Homo sapiens: one gene and its partners. The protein of the gene in region 3 purifies or fractionates together with the protein of the main gene of each other region. This does not show direct contact. Each region holds a gene or a part of one and is shown on either strand. Other genes may lie near its edges. The genes, in order: BLK, NSA2, CINP, HECTD1 and POTEE.

Region 1 (3,500 bases), on a different chromosome or scaffold from region 3:
AAGCAAAATTAACAAAGGTCAACCAACTAGTGTTCTTGTTTCGTTCTAGGAAAACAGTGAGTCCAGGGCTGACAGGAAGCGGAACTGGAAGGGCAGCGGGGCAGAGGGCACTGACTCCATCACGGTGTGAGGAGCAGCAGCTCAGGGCCGACTGGGACCAGAAATGCTAGATTTTTATTTCTTGGGGACAGGCAGTGCAGGAGGGAGGCTGTGTGGGAATACTCCGAGGAGCAGGGTCGCTCTGAGTTTCACCTGTTCCTGCCGTTTTCCAGGTGGTTCTTTAGATCACAGGGTCGGAAGGAGGCTGAGAGGCAGCTTCTTGCTCCAATCAACAAGGCCGGCTCCTTTCTTATCAGAGAGAGTGAAACCAACAAAGGTAGGCTTGGTGGCTTTGCCTGCCTTCCTTGCCCTGCTCCTCCCGGGAAGGCGCCTCCAGAGGCCTGGCCCTGGAGTGAGAGGGGAAGGGGTGACTGCCAGGAGAACCAGCAGCTTCCGGGCTTGTGTCCCTCCCAATTCAGGCCCTGCCCGGGAGTTGACATGGGGGCTGTCCACACAGTCCTCCCTGTCCCGGCTGGAAACCACCTGGGCACAGGAAGCCGGGTGGACAGGGGTGGTCCCACGCCAGACTGGCCCTGCTGCCCAGTCAGCAGGAACACCGAGGCCAGTGGGGGCCAGGGAAGGGGGAACCCTGAGCCCTTAACCACCAGCCTCTTTGGAATCAAGGATTAGGGGGAGCTCAAAGAATCCTTCAAGATCATCTCAGCCAGAGGCTGCAGGTAGCATATGTTAGGAAGTGGCCTGTGCCGTGATGTAAGAGAAGAGGGTGGTAATTGAGGGGAGCCCATGCCAGTCTAGACACTCATGAGTTCAAATCCACTGACTGAGCAAAACAGCTGCCATCACCCTCAGGGGTTTTCTCTCTTTCTCTGTCATTTGGCTTTCTTTCCTTCTTAATTTTTTTGGTGTAAAATATAAAACACATATAAAGCTTGCATGAAGTATGAATGTGTAATTCTAAATCATATAGGGTAATAATAAACAAATCCCTGTGTAATGACAGCCAAGAGAAAGAGCATCCCAGACCACCAGGAGCCCCCTCACTCCCCCACTTGGGCTCCTTCCTGATTCAACCCCCACCCTCAAGAGCTACCTGCTGTCCTGACTTGGATGGAAATCCTTCCTTGCTCTTCTCTGTGGTTTCGCCACCATGTCTTGTCTGTTTTTTCAGCTTGATGTAGATAGAATCACTGTTTTTGTTTCTGTGTGTCTTGCTTCTGTCACTCAGCAGTGTTTGTGGGATTCTATGTTAGTTTCCTGGGCTGCCGTAACAAAGTGGCACAGACTGGGTGGCTTCCACCACAGAAGCTTATTATCTCACAGCTCTGGAGGCTGGAAGTCCACGACCAAAGTGTCAGCAGCGTTGGCTCCTCCCGGGAGCTCTCTCCTTGGCTTGCCGATGGCCGTCTTCTCTGTGTCCTCACGTGGCCGTCCCTCCATGCATGTCTGTGTCCTAATCTCTTCTTGTAAGGACACCTGTCAATTTGGATTAGGGCCCACCCATATGACCTCATTTTAACTTAATCACCCCTTTAAAGGCTCTGTCTCCACATATAGCCACATTCTCAGGACCGAGGGTTAGGACTTTAACATATGAATTGGGAGCGCACATGATTCAACCAGTAACAGATTCATTCATGTGGTTGAGGATGGTGAGCCTGTTCATGTTCATTGCTATACAGAATCCCGGGTGTGACCATTCCAGAGTCAAGTTAGCCATTCTCATGTTGTGGGCATTGAGTTGTTTCCAGTTTGGGGCTGTTAATGCATGTGTTGCACCGAACCCTATTATGGTCCCTGGTGCTCACTGGCCACTAGCTTTTCGTCTGTAAGATACTAATCCACTTGACAGATGAGGAAAGGGAGTCCCTGAAACAGGAAGTGACTTGCTGGGGGCCAACAGTAAGCATCAGAGCCCAAAGCACCAGTGACCACATCATCTAAGAGGCTGAGAGGCTTCCCAAGCTCTACAACGTGGCAAGCTAGGGTGACCCAGGGGCTTCCCAGGCAGTATGAAGAATGCTTTGCTCATCAGGAAGCTGTCCACAGGGACCAGGTACAGCCTTGTAGCCAATTTTAACTGGAGAGGAGATGGTGACAGTGACATCAGAGGAGGAAAGGGAGAGAGAGTGTCTGGAATATGAGTCTGGTTCCCTGTGGTTGGGGCGATGAGAATGGACAGAGTTGTCACCTGGTGGGAGCACCCTTGGGCTGTCCATTGGTTCCATCTGTGGCTCAAGAACAGCAGCCAGAGTGGAAACCCAGAGTATGAAAAGCTGTCATAGCACCCTGTGATTCTCTGGGGACATCATGAGGCCTTGGTGCCCCACAAAGGGGCAGGACCAGGTTGGGGAGCAGGAAGGGTGCATTGGAAAGCTGGGGTGCTCTGTGCAGGATTTCTTGGAATATGCCAATGAATGCATATACATACATATACATACACATAGATATATGCATTTTATATTTATATTCATATTGGATATTGTCACTATTTCATTTTTGTGGCAGAGCACCTCTGTACAAGAAATAATTTGGGAATCACTGGAGATGACATAAGTGTTTTATTGTTGTTCCAGGACATTTCAAACATACACAGAAGTAGAGAAAATAGTTTAGTGGAACCCCTGGTACCCAACAGCCAGCTTCAACAATTATCAACTGAGCCAGTCTTGTTTCATCTGTATCTCCCGCTCCACCCCTGTTCTTTCGAAGTAAATCCCAAACATCATGTCATGTCACCCTGGAAATGATATTTCAACCATTGCCTATTGCTAAGGTGAAAGCCTCCCCACCCCCTGCCCAATCTGGTGTGGAGGAAGAAGGGGTTCTCTATGAGTCTGGCATCTTTTCCTGTCCATGTCCACCCCAGGAAGCCAGTCCAAGCTGGGAATAGGCCATATGGGACCAGGGCTGCAGGACTGTTCAACCATCATCACCACCACACGCACATACACATGCACACATGAACACACATGCACATATGCACAAATGCACACATATACACACATGTGCATACACAGGCATGTGTGCACACATACACATGCAAACACATACACATGTCCACGCATGCACATATACACACACACGCACACATATACATGTGCACATATGCACAGATGCAATGAACACGTGTGCAACACATGTACACACCTTACACGTACATATGCACACACACACACAACTCCAAAGCAAGACCCCTCTGCTTCTCCGAGCCACAGCAGTGAATGCAAGACAGGGATGGAAGCAGGGGAGTGAGTTCTACCCTTCGTGGCCTCCGGGGTGTCCTTGAGCCTCTCAAGCCTCAGTTTACTGGTGTCTATGTGAGGATAGACTAGTTTCACAGCTCAAAGGCAGGCGGTCCTTCAGTGCTGAGAAATCTTCATCTCAGAGCCAGGCCCTGCCTGCCCAGGGCAGTCCAGACATACCACAGAGGCAGGGGATCC
Region 2 (3,527 bases), on a different chromosome or scaffold from region 3:
CTTGTACCCAGGAGGCGGAGGCTGCACAGTGAGCCAAGATTGTACCACTGCACTCCAGCCTGAGCAACAGAGCGAGACTCCATCTAAAAAAAAAAAAAAAAAAAACCACCACATTACAGGTGGTATTTTCTCACCCATAACACAGCATTAAGATTTTTAGCTTAAGCCAACCATTTATTTAACATACCCATGATATATAAACTTGTTCTGTTTAATTTGCAGCTTATGAGACAATACAGACCTCTAGAAGACGGTTGAGCCAAAAATGTGTTGATGGTCAAGCAAAAAAAATAGATCTATTACTTTGTACAACTAAAACATATTTGACTTATTCTCATTGTCCTTTAATAACAATATAAACTTTTAACTGTGGCATATTTTTAGGGAAAATGGGAAGTCCCTCTGCCTAAAGTACGTGCCCAGGGAGAAACAGAAGTATTAAAAGTTATTCGAACAGGAAAGAGAAAGAAGAAGGCATGGAAGAGAATGGTTACTAAAGTGTGCTTTGTTGGAGATGGCTTTACAAGAAAACCACCTAAATATGAAAGATTCATCAGGCCAATGGTAAGTCCTTGGAAGAGTGTAATGACCGAAATGTTAGTTGACTTTATTAAATCGGATAAAGAACATTATCATTTCCTGAAATTCTTTAAATTGATGTGGAACAGGTTGAAAGATATTTTTATGCAATTTTTGTTATTTTATTGACAGAAGTTATTTAGTACTTTTTCCACTAGTCAAAAATCTTTAGCCCAGTGCGGTGGCTCACACCTGTAATCCCAGCACTTTGGGAGGTTGAGGTGGGTGGATCACCTGAAGTTAGGAGTTCAAGACCAGCCTGGCCAATGTAGTGAAACCCTATCTGTACTAAAAAATACAAAAAATAAGCTGGGCGTGGTGGCGGGCGCCTGTAATCCCAGCTACTAGGGAGGCTGAGGCAGGAGAATCGCTTGAACCTGGGAGGCGGAGGTTGCAGTGAGCTGAGATCACGCCATTGCACTCCAGCCTGGGCAAGAAGAGCAAAAATCCGTCTCAAAAAAAAAAAAAATCTTTTCAGCTTCGTGAGAGATTTGAAAAAGTAGTATCATAAGACATTGTCAGTGAATTCTGACTTTTAAACATGACATATTAGAATCTTCATTTTCCACAGTCATATTTTCCTCATTAAACTAGTGATCTACAATATGCCTGATATTGTCTAGGTCTCAAAACACTTCTTGTCTTTGACAGCAGTTCGAAAACTTGAGTAGGACTGTTTTATAAGAGTCAATTCCAGTTTGATAAGGAAAGTATCTAAATGCTTTTGAAAATCATTGAAAAGCCGGGCGCGGTGGCTCACGCCTGTAATCCCAGCACTTTGGGAGGCCGATGCAGGCAGATCACGAGGTCAGGTGATCAAGACCATCCTGGCTAACACTGTGAAACCCCATCTCTACTAAAAAAAAAAAATACAAGAAATTAGCCGGGCATGGTGGCGGGCGCCTGTAGTCCCAGCTGCCTGGGAGGCTGAGGCAGGAGAATGGCGTGAATCTGGGAGGCAGAGCTTGCAGTGAGTGGAGATCATGCCACTGCACTCCAGCCTGGGGGACAGAGCAAGATTCTGTCTCAAAAAAAAAAAAAAAAGAAAAAAAGAAAAAGAAAATCTTTGAAAAAAGGAAGATAATTTAATATAGCTTAATTTCTGTTGAAGGCAGCAATAGTAATGTGACCCCAAACTTCCCCACCCCTGGGGAGAAACATAGTTGAAGATATATTTTTGCAAAATCCCTTCAAAGAGACTGAACTATTCTCCCAGTTAGATACACAGCCTCAAAAAAACAAAGTATCAGAGAGAGGAAAGTTGCAACATGCCATAATCCTAGTGTTCAACCTGAGTAATTTTTTTTTTTTTTTTTTGGGACGGAGTCTCCCTCTGTATCCCAGGCGGGAGTGCAGTGGCACGATCTCGGCTCACTGCAAGCTCCGCCTCCCGGGTTCTCGCCATTCTCCTGCCTCAGCCTCCCGAGTAGCTGGGACTATAGGTGCCCGCTACCACGCCCGGCTAATTTTTTTGTATTTTTTTGTAGAGACGGGGTTTCACCGTGTTAGCCAGGATGGTCTCGATCTCCGTGATCCGCCCGCCTTAGCCTCCCAAAGTGTTGGAATTACAGGCATGAGCCACCGTGCCCGGCCAACGTGAGTAATTTTTAATAGATTAAAATATTGGCAAATAGCCTGTTTCTGTAAATAAAATTTTAATGGAACACAGTCATGCCTGTTCATTTACATATTGCATAACCCCTACCCCTAGAATTGAGCAGTTGCAACAGAGGCCATATGGCCTGACAAAGCCTAAAGTGTTTACCTATTGGGTTCTTTACACAAAATGTTTGCCCACCCCGGATTATATCATGGACTCGACTTGTTTTGGTTTCATATTCATAGTCTGAATATATTTTGGTAGCCTTAACAGTTCTACAGGGAGAGAATATACAAGTCAGGCTATTCTAGGTTTTCTGTAGTTTCACAGATTTGTCATTATAATCAGATGGCATCCTGAATGGTGTCAGTTTCTTACAAGCTTGATTAATGAGTCTGTTACTAAGAAACTGATTTAGTGATTTTTTCCCCCCATCCCCATGCACACAAAAATGAAGACTGCAAAATGTTGTGACGTTTAAAGTACTACACCCTAAAAGACCTTATTAGGTGACTGGGTGACTCCATAACCAGTTTCTGTAACAAAGACTCCTCTGGGTCTCCTCCAGTCTCATATTGCCATCAACCTAAAGAAAGCTGACAGTCCACTCCTTTTTTCATCATGGAAGGTAGCCGAGTTATATAAAGACTTGGAATCAGGATATTAAGGTTTGAGTCTGTTTACCACTCACCATTTAATCTGGAAACAAGTCATTTAACCTGCTGATCCTTGTTACATCATTTGAAAACAGAGGAGAGGGGATGTGTTTGTTGTGAGGTTATTGTGTTTAAGTGAGCCAGTTGTGAGCTAGCATAGTGGCCTGGTATATATAAAGTCCTTAGTAAGTCTAAGTGTAGATGACTAGACAGTAAAAATCTGGGTATGTTGCTAGGTAGCTATTACAGGGTGAAAAAAAAAAAAACTTTTCAGAGGCTAGCTGTGGTGGCCTGTAATCCCAGCACTTTGGGAGGCTGAGGTGGGTGGATACGTTGAGAGCCCAGGAGTCCAAGACCAGCAGGCAACATGGCGAAACCCCATCTCTACCAAAAAAAAAAAAAAAAAAAATAAGCTAGGCATGGTGGTGCGTGCCTGTAGTCCCAGCTACTCAGGAGCCTGAGGTGGGAGGATGTCTTGAGCCCAAGAAGTCCAAGCTGCAGTGAGCCAAGATCACGCCACTGCACTCTGGCGTGGGCAACTGGGCAAGACCCTGTCTCAAAAGAAAAAGAAATTCTTAAGTATTTGTGTGGGTGTTTTCCCCACATATTTATACTGTAACCATCAGCTTTTTACTCTGTAAAACATATTTTGTTAGCTTCTTTAAGATGACATTATTCAACCATAGTTTTTT
Region 3 (2,581 bases):
ATTTCCAAACAGCATTAATGTCTTAGACCCAAAGACCTGGAGGAATCCCAAGGCAGGCTCTTGCTGCCTTTTTTTTTTTTTCTTTTTTTTTTTGCGACAGGGTCTCATTCTGTGTGGCATGATCATGCCTTATGCAGCCTCAACCGCTGGCACCTCAGCCTCCCAAGTAGCTGGGATCACAGGTGTGCACCACCACACCCAGCTAATTTTTTTTAATTTGTGGAGACAGGGTCTCGTTATGTTGCCCAGGCTGGTCTCTAACTCCTGGGCTCCAGCAATCCTCCCGCCTCAGCCTCCCAAAGTGCTGGGATTATACAGGCATGCGCCACCGCGCCTGGCTGGCTCTTGCTGCTTTTAAGAAGTGAGAGAGAAAGGCATCAAATGAGCTCGTTTCTGATGCTCTCTCTCTCTCTCTTTTATCAAATGAGCTCGTTTCTGAGGCTCTCTGTCTCTCTATCAAATGAGCTCGTTTCTGATGTTCTCTCTCTCTCTCTTTTTTTTTTTTTTTTTTGAGACGGAGTCTTGCTCTGTTGCCAAGCTGGAGTGCAGTGCCAGGCTGGAGTGCAGTGGCGAGATCTCGGTTCACTACAACCTCTGATTCCCTGGTTCAAGCGATTCTCCTGCCTCAGCCTCCCAAGTAGCTGGGATTGCAGGCATGTGCCACCACGCCCAGCTAATTTGTGTATTTTTAGTAGAGACGGGGTTTCACCATGTTGGCCAGGCTGGTCTTGATCTCCTGAACTCGTGATCCGCCCACCTCGGCCGCCCAAAGTGCTGGGATTCTAGGCATGAGACACCGCACCAGGCCTGACTCTCTCTTATTAACTGCCTTTATTTACGGAAACCTCCTTGACTTCCTTGTTTATAAAATGGCAACACAGAAAGGGAGCCCTACACACTTCACGCAGAAAGGAAGGAAACGTGGCAAGCTGCCATTGACGGTCCCTCAGTGTGGACCAGGCTCTGTCCTAAGCCCTGTAACTGCATGATGTGTATGGCTACTTGTGGGAGACACTAAACCAACCCCACTGCACACACCAGGCAGCACAGAATAGGGGCAATGGCGGGCTTACTTTCACAGCTTGGTGAAGAGGATTAAGTGAGTTAGTATTTGTGAAGCACCTACTTGGAGATATATAAGGGTTGGATAAAGAAAATTAATGGGTGAAGTAACTAGGATTTCAGATTTAAGTAGCATAGGTCTATAAAGACCAAATTTTGAACTCCTAAGTATAGTTGACTTTACATACATAAATATGAAAAAGGGGAAATAAGAAAAGATATATAAATTGTCAAATATCTTAATTCCTTTACTTGGTCCTTCCAACCACCCTCCAATTACATTGGAAGTGGCAAGCACTAAATTCAGCTAACGTTAATTTTTAAAGGACTTTACTTAAGTAGTTTCCCAAATCTTTTAAGGTTTGATATTTTATTTGGCCCAACCCCAAGAGGCAGGACTTGTCATTTCCGTTTCACAGCTGGGAAATTGCTTAAGGTTGAGCTGAGGAAGGATGAGGCCAGAACTCGATACCATGCCTTCTGACACCAAGTTTTTTTGTTTTTGTTTTTGTTTTTGTTTTTTTTGAGACAGAGTCTCGCTTTGTCACCCAGGCTGGAGTGCAGTGGCGCGATCTCCGCTCACTGCAACCTCCGCCTCCCGGGTTCATGCCATTCTCCTGCCTCAGCCTCCCAAGTAGCTGGGACTACAGGCGCCCGCCACTGTGCCTGGCTAATTTTTTTGGTACTTTTAGCAGAGCTGGGGTTTCACTGTGTTAGCCAGGATGGTCTCGATCTCCTGACCTTGTGATCCGCCCACCTCAGCCTCCCAAAGTGTTGGGATTCCAGGCGTGAGCCACCGCGCCCAGCCGACACCAAGTTTTAACACCCAATCCTCTGCTCTTTCCTGTGAGTCCTGCAGCAGCTCCCTGGTGCCACCTGATTCTAAGAAAAGCTGATAACAGGAGACTAAGGAAAATTCTGGAGCCTTGACCCCAGGCAAGAAGTCATGCTCAATCCTGCAGCTCAGCCATCAATAAAGAATTCAAGTCACATAGGCACGTGCAGCCCTGAATGAACAGTGCATAAACAGCAGGCCCTTACATTTCAACATCGGTGGCTTCTTCCCACAGCAAACACAGACCACAGTGAAATGTTAGCCCAGCTTAGGAAGAACGGTGCATGAAACCCCCAGAAGGTCAAAGTTATGAAAGACACAGACCAGGTCTGGAAACCATTCTCTATAACGGATAGAGGAAAATAGGAAAAATAATAATACCCTATAAAATCAACTTTTGGTTTTGAACATAGAATGAGAACTTATTCCCAAACCACTTTTCTTTTTCTTTTTTTCTTTTTTTTGACACGGAGTCTCACTCTGTGGCCCAGACTGGAGTGCAGTGGCTTGATCTCGGCTAACTGCAACCTCCGAAAGTGATTCTCCCGCCTCAGCCTCCCAAGTAGCTGGGATTGCAGGCACCTGCCACCACCCCCAGCTAATTTTTTGTATTTTTAGTAGAGATGGGGTTTCACTATGTTGGCCATGCTGGTCTCAAACTCTTGACCTCAGGTGATCCACCTG
Region 4 (3,527 bases), about 71 Mb from region 3:
CTTTTGTGCCCTCAAAATTAAGTGACATCATTATTTTTTAAATAAAGCCTACTAGCACCTAAAAGCATCTTCTGAGATGCTCAATTTCCAGAGGACATAACTTTCAAATTATATTCAGATTTAGTAGCAAGATCTAGAAATGCCCATAATACATATTTATAACATTAATACATATGATGATCACCTATTTTGATGTGAATACAAAATGCTCATTAGCTAATAACTCATATTACTATTACTTACTTTTTTTTTTTTTTTTGGAGGCACGGTCTCACTCTGTCACCGAGGCTGGAGTGCAATGGCACAATCTTGGTTCACTGCAACCTCCGGCTCCCAGGTTCAAGAGATTCTCCTGCCTCAGCCTCCCAAGTAGCTGGGATTACAGGCACATGCCACAGTGCTCAGCTAAATTTTGTATTTTTAGTTGAGATGGGGTTTCACCATGTTTGCCAGGCTGGTCTTGAACTCCTGACCTCAAGTGATCTGCCCACTTCAGCCTCCCAAAGTGCTGGGATTACAGGCATGAGCCACCGCACCCGGCCATGTTTACATTACTACATTTTAGAACTCGATACATCAGGTAAAAGCAAAAACGAATCTTGAACGTGTTTTACTTTCTGGAGCATTACCTTGATAAGTTCAGGCATTAATAAGAAGCACTGACACATCATAGAAGAAGTTATATTCGTTGAACTTCAGAAAGACACTGTCAAAATGGGTACAAACAGTGGAGAGCCGGCCGGGCGCGGTGGCTCACGCCTGTAATTCCGGCACTTTGGGAGGCTGAGATGGGTGGATCACAAGGTCAGGAGATTGAGACCATCCTGGCTAACACAGTGAAACCTCGTTTCTACTAAAAATACAAAAATTAGCTGGGCATGGCTAAAATAGCACTGCGCTCCAGCCTGGGTGACAGAGCGAGACTCTGCCTCAAAAAAAAAAAAAAAAAAAAGTGGAGAGCCATGTACAATACTAAGTTAAAGGAAAAAGAAATCCTTGACTATTATCCCATTTATTTTCAGAAAAATCCTGCAAGGATGAGGAAACAGACTTCAAAGGCTATCACACAACTATTCAGTGGAAAAGGCAGGTATCTGAACCCAAGTCTATCCCATTGCAGAGGCCACTGTTTCTACCACACCACCTGCCTTTCCTGACTAAACAGATGTGAAACTATTAAGACAAGCTAATTAAGCAAACATATTATCAGGACATACAGGCATGTTTTGGTTTATTAGACAGAACTAAGTCCTATTTGCTACTACTTTATGAAATCAAGGTAGTATGAAAGATTTTTACCAATATTCAAAATATGCACATCATCTTGCTTTTTTTGCCTGCTGGGAGTTGATTGTTTAAAAGAATTTTAAAAGACCTTTCCAAATCAATCACTTTATTCATGGAATAAAGTGCTAAAATAAAATTCAAAATTAGATATTTATTAATGATGGCATCAGTGGGTAGCCCACTTTACTCAAAACACTTAACATACATTCTCTCCTTTAATCCTCACAAGAAGGCCCACTGGAAAAAAGACTACTGGCTGGGCATGGTGGCTCACACCTGTAACCCCAGCACTTTGGGAGGCTAAGGCAGGTGGATCAGGAGATCAAGAGATGGAGACCATCCTGGTCAACATGGTGAAACCCCATCTCTACTAAAAATACAAAAATTAGCCAGGTATGGTGGCACGCACCTGTTGTCCCAGCTACTCGGGAGGCTGAAGCAGGAGAATCACTTGAACCTGGGAGGCGGAGGTTGCAGTGAACCAAGATCGCACCACTGCACTCCAGCCTGGGCAACAGAGCAAGACTTCATATGAAAAAACAGAAAAGAAAAAAAGACTACTGCCATTTTACAGGGGAAGAAAGTAAGGCTCTCAGAGGCTAATGAACACAACAGACCAAGAATCTGAACCCAAGTCTCTGATGCCACAGCCCATTCTTTCCATCTCACTATGCCTCCCTCACTAGTTTCAAGAAGGAACCAGGACAATTTTCCCTTGTAACAACAAGAAAATCTGGCTATAGAATGAAAAGCAAACTAATGTTTAAAAACAAAACAGTCACAAAATTAAACCAAATGTCTAGTTTTTGGAGGTTACTGGTACACTACCCCAAACACGGCTAACCCCTTCAACTTGAAATACTCTTGTATCTTCATATAGTAAATCATATCTGACTTAACTTTAGGTTCATTTCCTTAAAATTACATTATAAAGCCAGGTGTGGTGGCACAGCCTATAGTCCCAGCTACTGAAGAGGCCGAGGCAGGAGAATCGCTTGAACCCAGGAGCTCGAGGCCAGACTGGGCAACATAGTGAGGCCCCAGTCTCTTAAAAATTACATCATACTATATATGAATAAAGCCTAGAAAGGAAAATGGAAAAAATAACAGCTGTTATGTTAGGATGGAAGGATTTTACATAGAGATAAATTTTATGTTTTAAAAATTTCATTTAAATTGTTTTAACATGGCAACACTTTTTTTTTTTATTATACTTTAAGTTTTAGGGTACATGTGCTCAACGTGCAGGTTTGTTACATATGTATACATGTGCCATATTGGTGTGCTGCACCCATTAACTTGTCATTTACATTAGGTATATCTCCTAATGCTATCCCTCCCCCCTCCCCCTACCCCACAACAGCCCCCGGTGTGTGATGTTCCCCTTCCTGTGTCCAAGTGTTCTCATTGTTCAATTCCCACCTATGAGTGAGAACATGCATTTGGTGTTTTGTCCTTGCGATAGCTTGCTGAGAATGATGGTTTCCAGCTCCATCCATGTCCCTACAAAGGACATGAACTCATCATTTTTTATGGCTGCATAGTATTCCATGGTGTATATGTGCCACGTTTGCTTAATCCAGTCTATCATCGATCGACATTTGGGTTGGTTCCAAGTCTTTGCTATTGTGAATAGTGACACAATAAACATACGTGTGCATGTGTCTTTATAGCAGCATGATTATTATAATCCTTTGGGTATATACCCAGTAATGGGATTGCTGGGTCAAACGGTATTTCTAGTTCTAGATCCTTGAGGAATCGCCACACTGTTTTCCACAATGGTTGAACTAGTTTACAGTCAGTCCCACCAACAGTGTAAAAGTGTTCCTATTTCTCCACATCCTCTCCAGCACCTGTTGTTTCCTGACTTTTTAATGATCGGGCAACACTTTTTTAAATGTCATAACAAATACTTCTACTACATATTAGTACTAAACAGAAGCTACGAAATGACAATTGACTTGACTGACAAGTATGATTTTTAAAATACCAAAAGTAACTTTCAGGTTACCTCTAATGAAATCTATGAACGCAATTTTTAACTTGAGAGTCAGGATGAGGAAAAAAATAAAAAATAAAAATAAATTTTAAAAAATCTACTTTACTATAAATCCTGCTAAAACAAGTGTCAACTAAGGGCTAAGTTATTCTTACATACTCAAAATTCTGCCAATGACAAAAACTAATGGAAATAAATGGACCACTAACTAATTGTAATTTGGAAATTTTATTAGTAA
Region 5 (3,527 bases), on a different chromosome or scaffold from region 3:
CCGTTTTTGTAAGTCAAGTATCTTGGAACACAGCCATGCTTATTCACTTTACAGTCCATAGTGTCAGTTAGCTGGGTGTGATGTTGCACACCCGTGGTCTCAGCTAGTAGAGACTGAGGTCAGAGGATCACTAGAGCCCAGAAAGTCGAGGCTGCAGTCAGCCATGATCACACAACTGCACTCCAGCCTGGGAAACAGAGTGAGACCCTGTCTCAAGAAAATCAATATATGTAGTCCACAAAGCCTAAAATATTTACTAACTAGCTCTTTGCAGAAAAAGCTGGCCAACTCCTGGTTTAGTAGATCAAAGATTCTTTGATGTATTTTAATAAAAGTTTTACCAAATATACTGAAATGTTTATATTAAATATAGATCCCCATGTACAATCGCTTGGCAATATTCAGATTGAGGGTCCAATATTTCAGCACTCAGGCACTGACAACAAAAATTTAGTAACTAGCAATCTTGTTGCTAACAAGGTACAGTGTCAATGTAGCATGTAGCTTCCATTTGCAACACAGCAGATATTACAAGAATTTTAACAAGAACTCTTAAGATGTGTCATCAAACTAAACGCTTTAAATACATTTTAATTGTGAAATAATCAGTATACCCTACATCTAACCTCATTTTTTAAAAATGGTTGCATAATACATTATTTTGGGGATATGGAAATTGAGCTATTTCCTATTGATAAGGAATTAGACTAGCTCCAAATTTTTTACATAATACTATAATAAATGTCCTTATACATAAGTATACATATAACATATCTATACAAATATCCTTTACATGTATTATATATGCTTACTGTTATATATGTGTGTGTGAATATGCTACTCAATTAATGTTCAAAATGTATTTACCAACAGTATATGAAATGTCTTTTTCAATGAAACCATTTCCCCTGCAGCAACACGGATGGAGCTGGAGGCCATTATCCTAAGAAAACTCATGCAGGAACAGAAAATCAAATGCCACATATTCTTACTCATTAGCGGGAACTAAACATGAGAACTCATGGACACAAAGAGGAGAATAACATACACTGGGGCCTACTTGAGGGAGGAGCATGGCAGGAGGGAGACGACCAAAAAACTACCTTTCGAGTATTTTGTTTACTATGTGGCTGGTGAAATAATCTGTACCCCAAGCCTCCATGATACAGTTTACCTATATAATAAACCTGCACACGTACCCCGAAGCTAAAATAAAAGTTCACTGAAAAGAGAAGAAAATGCCTTTTCCCTCACATTTGCCAATACTGGTTATTTTTCAAATAAATTAATGACTGGAAAAAAAACGGTAACTGATTGTTTGCTGATTTTCATTTTTCTGATTAACAGGCAAGGCTCAATATCCTAATAAAAGTATAAAATTTGTTCATCATGAATATTAGCTCAAATTAGGATTAGTTTGGCAGCACAAAGTTACCTCCTGTTCAATGTTGCCATAGGCTTACCTGTGATACTCTTCATTCTCAGTGTCAGGAAATTGCTGGCTTTCAGGTGTTCTGCTCTTCCTTGGAGGAATTAATCCATCATCACCATTGCCAGCAGTGGCACCATTAGTCAGGTTTTCTGGGAATCCGACATGAGTACTTCCGTGCTTCTTCATTTCTTCGATAGCCATAAAATTTTCTAGCTGGAAAATACAGAGAATAAGAAATTATCTACTTTAGGCACATTATCTATTGATAATCAGACTAAAACCAAGAAAGATAAAATAATTGGTCTAAAGCTCCTAAAGTGGCATTACCTAGCATTTTATGGCACCATTCGGGATTATTCCATAATAATGAAAGAATAGCTCTAGGGTTTGCACCTCTTCAAAATTCAATGTACAGAATTCTGAGTTAACTATTTAATTTTTCACTGATGATTTATGCTACTTACATGATAGGATCATGTATGCCTACATTTACTACACTTTGTTAAACAACATAATGTAAAAATCTAATTCAACACAAACGTTTGAATATAAAGGTATACCTCTCTATCACCATCCTTATTTATTTCTGGTTCTTGAGATCTTTTCTGCAGATGTAAAAACAGAAGGTTAATTTGCTTGCTGTATTTCTGTGACATTTCCTCTTTTGGAGTGCATGTTTTTAAAATAATTTTATTCTGAAGTAATCAAGTATGGACAATAAAAATTAGAAAGTAATTAAAATTAAACTGTTAAAATAAATAATAATTAAAATTAAGAATTAACTTTTTAATCTATGTTTAGCTACTGCCACATCACTGGCTTCTAACATGTGAAAAATAATTCACCTTAGACAAAGGGAGAAGAAAAACATGAACCAGCAAACTTAACTTTCTCACTATTTGTTTGGACTAAATTTAATTTGTTATGTGTTAAATCTACCAAAAATGAATCAGCAGATGATTTGTAGTGTTCCAAAATCTTCCTCACTTGAAAAGAGTTTACCTCATGAAACCCTAACTAGTGAGCACCTACAGTGCACTGAAGTGCTTTTTTAAAAGATTCCTAACTGGATTGTAGGCACCCTTTAAACTATTAGGAGCCGAAATCAACACCAAACAGAAAGAAATGCAAATTCTCACATTTTAATTGAAATTATATACTGTCATATGATAGTGTTATGTATCCAGATTATCTGCGTAAGTCCAGTTCTAATATATTCTAATGTGTACTAATGACAGCAGATAAAATTTTTTAATCTCTACTGATTTTCTGCAACTGAAATAAATTAGAATGTTATTGTGTTTGTGCACTAACACCAAAGGTCCCATTCTGCAAGATATGGTTCTTGTAATAGGCAGTTGGGTTGCTTTTATGACCTGGTTCCCTCCCTGAACAGAAACACTGAGGTCAACGAGAGACCACAAGGCAGGATATGTCCTTAACCTTGGTATCAGTGACTGACAATATAAAACTGTGGATTTTCAATCACAGGCCATGATTACTCTTTAACCATGAATCCAGCTCAGGGAATCAGTGTTACATTGTTCATAATTCCTATTGCTTAATAATATGATTCAATCATTGATGTTACTTTCTTTATCATGTTAGGGTGTTGTAAAAATAAAAGAACAAACAAAGTTCTGAAATTTGTTTTTGCCTCTATTCCAAAAGGAGAGATTAGCTATAAGCTAATCAAGAAGGCAGATAAGAATATTTTAAAATAAGAGTATTTTAAATTTTATAGTGGGTTATGTTGAAGTTAAATATCAAATATTAAATTAGAATCTATTGATTCTTCTGTTAATAAGGTTGCTGATTTTATTACAATAAATTTTAAGAATCTATTAAAATTTTTTTTTTTTTTTTTCACATGGAGTCTCGCTCTGTCACCCAGGCTGGAGTGTAGTGGTGGATGTCGGCTCACTGCAAGCTCCCTCTCCTGGGTTCATGCCATTCTCCTGCCTCAGCCTCCCGAGTAGCTGGGACTACAGGCACCCACCACCACGCCCAGCTAAGTTTTTGTATTTTTACTAGAGACGGGGTTTCACCATGTTAGCCAGGATGGTCTCGATCTCCAGACCTCGTGATCCACCTG

Evidence for each region.
Region 1: the proteins of CINP (region 3) and BLK purify together in Homo sapiens (affinity purification with mass spectrometry; one large-scale study listed by BioGRID and IntAct). This does not show direct contact.
Region 2: the proteins of CINP (region 3) and NSA2 purify together in Homo sapiens (co-immunoprecipitation; one large-scale study listed by IntAct). This does not show direct contact.
Region 4: the proteins of CINP (region 3) and HECTD1 purify together in Homo sapiens (co-immunoprecipitation; 3 studies listed by BioGRID and IntAct, with this or other methods). This does not show direct contact.
Region 5: the proteins of CINP (region 3) and POTEE purify together in Homo sapiens (affinity purification with mass spectrometry; 2 studies listed by BioGRID and IntAct, with this or other methods). This does not show direct contact.

What each region holds. Positions count from the first base shown.
Region 1 is NC_000008.11:11,549,887-11,553,386, forward strand, and holds part of BLK (tyrosine-protein kinase Blk), read left to right. Parts: intron 1-272; coding exon 273-376; intron 377-2,599; exon of another isoform or gene 2,600-3,500. UniProt on the Homo sapiens protein: Non-receptor tyrosine kinase involved in B-lymphocyte development, differentiation and signaling. B-cell receptor (BCR) signaling requires a tight regulation of several protein tyrosine kinases and phosphatases, and associated coreceptors.
Region 2 is NC_000005.10:74,770,247-74,773,773, forward strand, and holds part of NSA2 (ribosome biogenesis protein NSA2 homolog), read left to right. Parts: intron 1-384; coding exon 385-564; intron 565-2,066; coding exon of another isoform or gene 2,067-2,126; exon of another isoform or gene 2,127-2,247; intron 2,248-3,527. UniProt on the Homo sapiens protein: Involved in the biogenesis of the 60S ribosomal subunit. May play a part in the quality control of pre-60S particles.
Region 3 is NC_000014.9:102,350,316-102,352,896, forward strand, and holds part of CINP (cyclin-dependent kinase 2-interacting protein), read right to left. Parts: intron 1-2,581. UniProt on the Homo sapiens protein: Component of the DNA replication complex, which interacts with two kinases, CDK2 and CDC7, thereby providing a functional and physical link between CDK2 and CDC7 during firing of the origins of replication.
Region 4 is NC_000014.9:31,201,268-31,204,794, forward strand, and holds part of HECTD1 (E3 ubiquitin-protein ligase HECTD1), read right to left. Parts: intron 1-3,527. UniProt on the Homo sapiens protein: E3 ubiquitin-protein ligase which accepts ubiquitin from an E2 ubiquitin-conjugating enzyme in the form of a thioester and then directly transfers the ubiquitin to targeted substrates.
Region 5 is NC_000002.12:131,251,036-131,254,562, reverse strand, and holds part of POTEE (POTE ankyrin domain family member E), read right to left. Parts: intron 2,038-3,527; coding exon 1,993-2,037; intron 1,646-1,992; coding exon 1,464-1,645; intron 1-1,463.